2 separate regions of the Homo sapiens genome follow, and region 2 is linked to region 1. Evidence: fine-mapped expression QTL. A gene starts in region 1. The other region holds a variant in brackets. All regions are shown on one strand. Distances are from middle to middle.

Region 1 (4,393 bases):
TCCCTGCAAGAGACAGGTTCTATTATGTCATCCTTGTTTCACAACTGAAAAGTAGGCTTGAATAAGCAATGTGCTGCAAGCCAAACAGTAAATGGCACAATCCGACCCCCCTGGAGCCAACCCATGAGGTCCAAGTTAAGAACCTCTGTCGGCCGGGCGCGGTGGCTCACGCCTGTAATCCCAGCACTTTGGGAGGCTGAGGTGGGCGGATCACGAGGTCAGGAGATGGAGACCATCCTGGCTAACACGGTGAAACCCCGTCTCTACTAAAAATACAAAAAATTAGCCGGGCGTGGTGGCGGCCGCCTGTAGTCCCAGCTACTTGGGAAGCTGAGGCAGGAGAATGCTGTGAACCCGGGAGGCAGAGCTTGCAGTGAGCCGAGATCGCGCCACTGCACTCCAGCATGAGTGACAGAGTGAGACTCCGTCTCAAAAAAAAAAAAGAACCTCTGTCCTAGAGCATTTATAATTCACTACAGAAATGTATTCTATGAAGGACTTTAATACCATCAGTCAGCCTTATCCAGACGATCTCAATTCTAATCCTGTCACCACCACTTTCTGACTGAGGGCTATTGGAGAATTTTCTCAACTTCTCTGTGCCTCCCTTACCTCATCAATTATTATTATGTATGTGTATGTGTGTGTGTGTATATATATATATATGTGTGTGTGTGTATATATATATGTGTGTGTGTGTGTGTATATATATATATATATATATATTTTTTTTTTTTTTTTTTTTTTTTTCTGAGACAGAGTCTCACTCTGTCACCCAGGCTGGAGTGCAGTGGCACAATCTTAGCTCACTGCAACCTCCACCTTTTGTGTTCATGCGATTCTCCTGCCTCAGCCTCCTGTATAGCTGGGAACACAGGCGTCCGCCACCACACCCGGCTAATTGTTGTATTTTTAGCAGAGACGGGGTTTCACCATGTTGGCCAGGCTGGTCTCGAGCTCCTGACCTCAGGTGTTCCACCCACCTCGGCCTCCCAAAGTACTGTGGTTACAGGCGTGAGCCACTGCTCCCAGCCTATTTTTATTTACTTTTTTTTTTTTTTTTTTTTTGAGACGGAGTCTCGCTCTTTCGCCCAGGCCAGACTGCAGTGGCGCTGTCTCTGCTCACTGCAACCTCCGCCTCCCGGGTTCACGCCATTCTCCTGCCTCAGCCTCCCGAGTAGCTGGGACTACAGGTGCCCGCCACCGCGCCCGGCTAATTTTTTGTATTTTTAGTAGAGTCGGGGTTTCACCGTGTTAGCCAGGATGGTCTCCATCTCCTGACCTCGTGATCCGCCCGCCTCGGCCTCGCAAAGTGCTGGGATTACAGGCGTGAGCCACCGCGCCCGGCCTTTTATTTACTTTTTGAGACAGGGCCTGGCTCTGTCACCCAGGCTGGAGTGCAATGGTGCAATCACAGCTCCCTGTAGCCTCAACCTCCTGGGCTCAGGCAATTCTCCCACCTCAGCCTCCCGAGTAGCTGAGACTACATACGCATGCCATCACTGCTGGCTAATTTTTGTGGTTTTGTTTTGTTTTTTATAGAGACGGGGTCTCGCCATGTTGCCGAGGCTGGTCTCAAACTCCTGGTCTCAAGCAATCCTCCTGTCTCCGCCTCCCAAGTGCTGGGATTATAGGCATGAGCCACCCGCGTCTCATCAATTAAATAAATAACCCCTAGGACGACTAAGATGTCTTCAAGATTACATGAGATCCCACATCTGAAGGTTTTTGCAAAGGACTTGGCACAAACTCGTGCGACTAGACATGGATATGGCTCTTGCTCTGGAAAGGATCACCTTGATAGGAGCAAACAAAGCTGGTCTTCGGTGCCCTTTAATCTCCCCTCCCAGCCTTCCACCTTCCACACTTTAAGAGTCGTCCCTGCCGACCCCCCGACCCCGTTTTTCTGAACCTCCCTTCCTCCCCTTGCATAGTCCAAAGCCTCTCTCTAAAGCAGCCCCCCGAAAACATCTGTCAAGTTCCAAACTTATCTGAATCGGAAGCTACCAATAGCCAACCTACATCTAAGGGGAACTGTAAGATTTCAGAAGAACAAGAAGCATAGGTCGCTTAGGCGTGGGCCACCCAAGAAGAGAGACTTAACACTAGGTAAGCCCGCGCTGGCTGCGAAGGCGGGAGCGGCACCAGGACCATCCAGGGCGCAGGCGCAGGGACCTCACGGCCACGCCACTACTCAGCCCGAGCTGGCCAATGGGGAGCGGCGGCCGGAAGAACGCGCGGCTTCGCTAGGTTCCGCGGCTTCCTCTGACCAAGCTTGACGTCACCAAAGCGCGCCGGAAATGCGAGGTCAACTGCGCGCCGCTGGCGCTGAGGGGAGGAAGTTTGCTGTCGAGCGGCCTGGGTTCCGTGGGCAAGGCCGTGGGAGGCAGCGTTGGCTGCTTCGACACACTGAGGGCGGCGCGATGGGAGACGAGATGGATGCCATGATTCCCGAGCGGGAGATGAAGGTCAGAGACTAACCGGGGCCTCCCTCCCTTCTTTAGTCCTGGCGTTGCCTTGGAGCCCAGCTGAAAGGCGAAGCGCGGTGCTGGCTGTCCCGCCTCCTGCTTGAACAGTTTACCGCGTTCACAGCTCTCACCAGCGCGTCTGCCGCGCCGCTGGCGTGATAGCCCCACCGAATGCAGTTTCCCAGTCCCATCCTGGTCTCGTGCACGGCTGTTGAGTTACCCTAGCTACTTCCTGGGGCGGTCACAATAGTGGCAATAACTGCTGTTTATTGAGTGTTGACTGTGTGCCAGGCACTGTGGTAGTCATCGCGGCAGCCCTACGAAGTAGTCGTTAACGTAGAGGAGTAAGTTGAGGCTCGGAAAGTAATTTCCCTAAAGTCACATTTGACGCGGGGCTGAAAGCCAGCATCATTTAAGACCTTTGCTCTCCCAGTACTTCTGTAAGGTGATACGGGCTTGCCTAACGTAGAGTCAGGGAAGGTCATCCATCCTGCAGAACCTTTAGTTGATTGGACTAGGAAGACTATTTTGACCTCGGTATATCAGCCTAAAGTCAGGAACCTAAAGGGAGGGCCAAGTGGTCCCAGTGATAGCAACGTGGGAGTCCCCCAGGGATAACTTCAGGATGGTGTGTTTAATAGTTCTTATATGGGTTCTGACAGAATGAGGGTACAACAGACGGGCTACATCTGTTTTAAATAGTGAAAAGAAGTAAGTTGCAGGAAGATTTTAGGCATCTGTGTGAACAATAAATCACTAAAATGCATTTAGGGCATAGTAATACCATGTTTAGAATAGTGATTTTTTTTTTTTTTTGAGACAGAGTCTTGCTCTGTCACCCAAGCTGGAGTGCAGTGGCATGATCTCGGCTCCCTGCAACCTCCACCTCCCCGGCTCAAGCGATTCTCCTGCTTCAACCTCCCTAGTAGCTGGTATTACAGGCGCCTGCCACCACGCCCCACTAATTTTTTATATCATTTGGTAGAGACTGGGTTTCACGATGTTGGCCAGGCTGGTCTCGAACTCCTGACCTAACGTGATCCGCCCTCCTCTGGCTCCCAAAGTGCTGGGATTATAGGCGTGAGCTACCGTGCTGTCCTAGAATAGTGATTATTTTTTGAGAATCACCACCTGTGGTGAGCCACCTAATGGGGTTGTGTCATATTCCTCAGATATGCTGGGGTAGAAGAAAAAAAGGTTTTATTAATAGAACCACAGACTTAGAAGATGGTAATCTCGCACTCCCTTTGGCAGCACATATAAAATTGGGATCATGCAGAGAAGACTATTATGGCCCCTTTACATGGATGACAGACAAATTCATGAAGTGTTCCATATCAGAAAAAAATGAGGGCCGAGTGTGGTGGCTCATGCCTGTGAGCTTGCACTTTGGGAGGCTGAGGTGGATGGATCACTTGAGGTCCGGAGTTCGAGACTAGCCTGGCCAACATAATGAAACCCTGTGTCTACTAAAAATACAAAAATTAGATGGCCATGGTGGCGGGTGCCTGTAATCCCAGCTACTTGGGAGTCTGAAGCAGGAGAATCGCTTGAACCTGGGAGGCAGAGGTTGCAGTGAGCCAAGATCGCTGCACTGCACTCCAGCCTGGACGACAGAGCGAGACTCCATCTCAAAAAAGAAAAAAAGACAATTGAGACAGACCTTGGTCTCAGTAATACATATTTTTGTTGTACTGAAATTGGGTCTACTGAATATAACATGTTTTAATTTCTTTCTTTATTGAATTGATCTCGTTTTGATTCTTCACAACAGGATTTTCAGTTTAGAGCGCTAAAGAAGGTGAGAATCTTTGACTCCCCTGAGGAATTGCCCAAGGAACGCTCGAGTCTGCTTGCTGTGTCCAACAAATATGGTCTGGTCTTCGCTGGTGGAGCCAGTGGCTTGCAGATTTTTCCTACTAAAA
Region 2 (4,393 bases), 79 kb after region 1:
TCTTTTTGTGTTTTTGGTTGAGACGGGGTTTTGCCACGTTGCCCAGGCTGGTCTGGTCTCTTAACTCCTGAGCTCAGGGTGATCTGCCCGCCTTGGCCTCTCAAAGTGCTGGGATTACAGGCGTGAGCCACTGTGCCTGGCCAGTTTTTATATTTTTAAGTGGTTGTTTAAAAAGAAAAAAGAGGAAGAAGATTTGGCAACATATATATCCCCTCTGCTACGCTATATGTAGCCCAGAGACTCCTTTTGGTGAACTGAGCTGTTTGATTTTATGTAGCTAGCAGTTATCTATGTGCCAGGCATAATTTTAAGTCTTTTATTTATTTATTTATTTATATTTATTTATTTACTTATTTTTTTTTTTGAGACCGAGTGTCGCTCTTTTGCCCAGGCCGGACTGCAGTGGTGCTATCTCGGCTCACTGCAAGCTCTGCCTCCCAGGTTCACGCCATTCTCCTGCCTCAGCCTCCCGAGTAGCTGGGACTACAGGTGCCCACCACCGCACCCAGCTAATTTTTTGTATTTTTAGTAGAGACGGGGTTTCGCTGTGTTAGCCAGGATGGTCTCGATCTCCTGATCTCGTGATCCGCCCACCTCAGCCTCCCAAAGTGCTGGGATTACAGGCGTGAGCCACTGTACCCAGCCAATTTTAAGTCTTTTATACAAATTAACTCATGTAAGCATCACAGCACCTCCATAAGATAGGTGCGATTATTATCGCCATTTAAGAGATGAGGACACCGAAGGCCCAGAGAGGTTAAATTGACTGTTACATCAGACACCGGCTGCATTTAGATCATTTAGATCATAGTAACCTCCTAAGGAGCCCTTATGAAGAAAGATACCCTAATTTATCAGAAAGGATTGTGACTTTCTGAAGGTAGAATTTGTATTAGTCCGGCAGTTAATAAAGTGGTAGGCATAATATATGTTTCTTATACATCTTCAGGAAGAAATTTTCTTTATCATCTCTGTTTTCCTTTGAAGATAGGCTCTGTCCTAGTCAGTGATCTTTCTTAAGAGAGAAGTGAAACTTCTGATTTCCAGTTTCTGGTAGTAGAGGACTAAGTCATTCAAGGGAACCAAGTTCCCTACTGAAAACTACTAAAAAATGCTAGATAAAACATAAAAACCTTGTCTTTAAAAGCACCAATAAACTAACAAGGTATTTTACCAAGCCAAAAGGAAAATGGGGACCTAGAGAAGTGGAGCCCAGAAGCCAGTTGTGCCCTGACAGCATTTACTAATCTGAGAAAATGTGAATTTTCTATTTAATAACCCCAAAGGTAAAGGGACAAAAATCACCAACTAAGATATGCACAAAGTGGGGAGTCTAAAAGAGACCCTTCAGCTGGGACTCCATGTTGACAGGTCTCAGCCCCTGACTAGACTGATATGGTTCCAGAGTGATGCTGCCTCCAGGTGTCTGGCAGAGGCAGCGCAGGCCCACCCTGAAGGAAAGGAACTTTACTTAGCCTTCGAATTACTCTTACAAGTAATTTCTGTCCCTCAATGAGACACACAAGGAAACCAGGAACTATGAGCAAGAGCCAGAATAAGCGTCAGAAATCACCTTTGCACAGACTACCTAAACTGTAAATCAGCTGGGGCTTACAGAGTTTAGAAGAAATCAAAGACAAACTTGAAAATACCAGTAAGGAATATAAAATCTTAAGAAGTGTCATAGCAAATTTGAAGAAGAACCAAATAGAATTTCTAGGAAAATGTAATGATTAAACTCAGGTGTAAACTCAGTGGCTGTATTTGGAGCAGATTAGACCCACTGAAAGGAGCAGTGGTGCTCTAGAACAGAATGTGGTAGTCAGCGTTTCCAGCTTTGAGGGCTATCGATAGCCTCTGTCAGAAGCACTTAACGCTGCCATTGTAGTGCAGAAGCAGCCGTAGACAATA[T/C]GTAAACGAATGCGCATGATTGTGTTCAGTAAAGCTTTGTTTACAAAAACAGGCAGTGAGCTGGATTTGGCCCCTGCGCTGTAGTTTGCTGACCTAACTAGAAGGTAGGTTAAGGTGAGTTACCTGGAATGCATCACAGAGAGCGAAATGAAAGATACAAAAGAGAAAAAATCCTGTAGGAGAAAATCCAACACACATTTAATCAGAGTCCCAGAAGGAGAAGAGAGAAAGACAGAACCTTCCAAAACTAATCGATAATAGTAATCCACAGATTCAGAAGCCCAACAAGTGCCAAACGAGAATGCATAAAAGGAAACTGATTCTAAGACCTGTCCTAGTGATACTGAAGAACACCAAAGATGAAATATTAAAAGCAACTAGAGAAAAAAGACAGATTATCTTCTAGGGTGCCATAGGCAGACTGACAGCAGACTTTTCAGCAATGACCATGAAAGCCAGAACTGGCCACCTAGCATTTCTAAATCCAGCAAAAAAATATCTATAAAGAATGAAGAGAAATCAAGACTTTTTTTCAGATAAGCAAATACTGAAATAATTTATGTCTAGCAGACCTGACTCCAGTCTGGGCGACAGAGCAAGACTCCATCTCAAAAAACAAAAGAAATTCTAAGAGATACTGTTTGGAAAGAAGGAAAATTTGACCTCACTAAAATTATGGCCCTCTTAATTTTAGGGTAAAACAAGCCATTAAATAGGAAAATTGTAGCCTATGTAACCAACAGTGTAATTGTATTCAGAATATGTAAAGCTTTCCTATAGTTCAAAAAGAAAGACAGCTATACCCAAATTAAATTAAAAGGCTGACAGTACCAAGTATTGGTGAGGAAGAAGAGCAACTGGGAACTCATATTGCTAGTGAGAGTGTAAATTCATATTAACCACTTTGGAAAACCATTTGGCAGTATCAAAACTAATATACAAAATCCCTCTTGGCCCAGCAAATCTACCCTGAATATGTAACCAACAGAAATGAGTGCCTTTGTTCACCAAAAGATATTGATAAGAATGTTCACAGCAGAATATTCTTAATAGCTAAACACAGGAAACAGCCCAAATGCTTATGAGCTAAAGAATGCATAAATAAATTGTGGTATATTCATACAGCCCAATACTACAGAGAAATAAAATGTACTGCTCCTATAGCTGGCCTAGGTTTGTTTTTTTGTTGTTGTTTTGTTTTTGAGACGGAGCCTTACTCTGTTGCCCAGGCTGGAGTGTGGTGGCATGGTCTTGGCTCACTGCAACCTCTGCCTGCTGGATTCAACCTCAGCCTCCCGAGCAGCTGGGATTATAGGTGCCCACCACCACGCCCAGCTAATTTTTGTATTTTTAGTAGAGACAGGGTTTCGCCATGTTGGCCAGGCTGGCCTTGAACTCCTGAACTCAGGTGATCTGCCCACCTCGACTTCCCAAAGTGCTGGGATTACAGTCATGAGCCACCATGCCCAGCCTAAATTTGTTTTTTAAAGAAATTCGTGCACGTATGTATCAGGATACAAGTGTATTCATAGCAACATTGTTATAATAGCTTACAACTAGAAGCAGCCCAAATGTTTGTCAGCATTCATATGGGTAGGTAAATTTACATTATTCCACATAGAATTTTTTTCTTTTTTCTTTTTTTTTTTTTTGAGACAGGGTTTTACTCCTGTCGTCAAGGCTGGAGTGCAGTGATGCGATCTCCACTCACTGCAACCTTTGCCTCCCAGGCTCAAGTGATTCTCCTGCCTTAGCTACCCAAGTAGCTGAGACTACAGGTGCACACACTGTGCCTGGCTAATTTTTTGTATTTTTTTGTAGAGACGGGGTTTCACATGTTGCCCAGGCTGGTCTTGAACTCCTGGGCTTAAGCAATCTGCCTGCCTCGGCCTCCCAAAGTGCTGAGATTAGAGACATGAGCCACTGTGCCCAACCCTCTTTTCTTTTTTTTTGAGACAGGATCTCACTCTGTCACCCAGGGTGGAGTGCAGTGGCACAGTCACAGGTAACTGCAGCCTTGATCTCCTGGGCTCAAGCAGTCCTCCTATCAGTTCTCCAGAATAGCTAGGTCCACAGGTGCACCACCACGCCCAACTAATTTTTTCAGTTTTTTGTAGAGATGGGGTCTCACCGTATTGTCTAGGCTGGTCTGTAACTCCTGGCCCAAGTGATCCTCCCACCTGGACCTCCCAAAGTGCTGATGAGATTACAGGCATGAGACACCATACCTGGTCTCATAGTAGAATATTATCCAGCTATGAAAAGGAGCAGATTTCAGCTCCATGTATAACTAACAAGCACAATGTTGAGCCAAAGAAATAGAAAACATCACTGTGATAAACTCCATATTGTTACTTCCCCTTCCACTCCGTATTCTTCCACCACGGAAATTATGTATGCAATTGGAAGGGCCAAAGATTGAAATCAAGGTTTTTTCTATGATGGCAGGGGCCTTATTGTTTTTATTGATTGCTGTATCTCC

What was found. PIP is the estimated chance that this variant, and not a neighbour inherited with it, causes the effect.
Region 2: its variant is fine-mapped to the expression of NUP214 in whole blood (INTERVAL, PIP above 0.99).

What each region holds. Positions count from the first base shown.
Region 1 is chr9:131,123,282-131,127,674 of GRCh38, forward strand. NUP214 (nucleoporin 214) reads left to right here and starts at 2,305. Exons shown (of 36, transcript NM_005085.4): 1 at 2,305-2,468; 2 at 4,243-4,393. The coding sequence starts at 2,424. It also overlaps the pseudogene RNU6-881P. RefSeq lists an enhancer at 2,204-2,503.
Region 2 is chr9:131,202,600-131,206,992 of GRCh38, forward strand. The region is part of intron 30 of NUP214 (nucleoporin 214); the gene reads left to right. Among named protein-coding and RNA genes, the nearest start is that of FAM78A, 72 kb to the right of the region's middle. RefSeq lists an enhancer at 1,609-2,163. The variant T/C (reference allele first, on the strand shown) is at 1,912.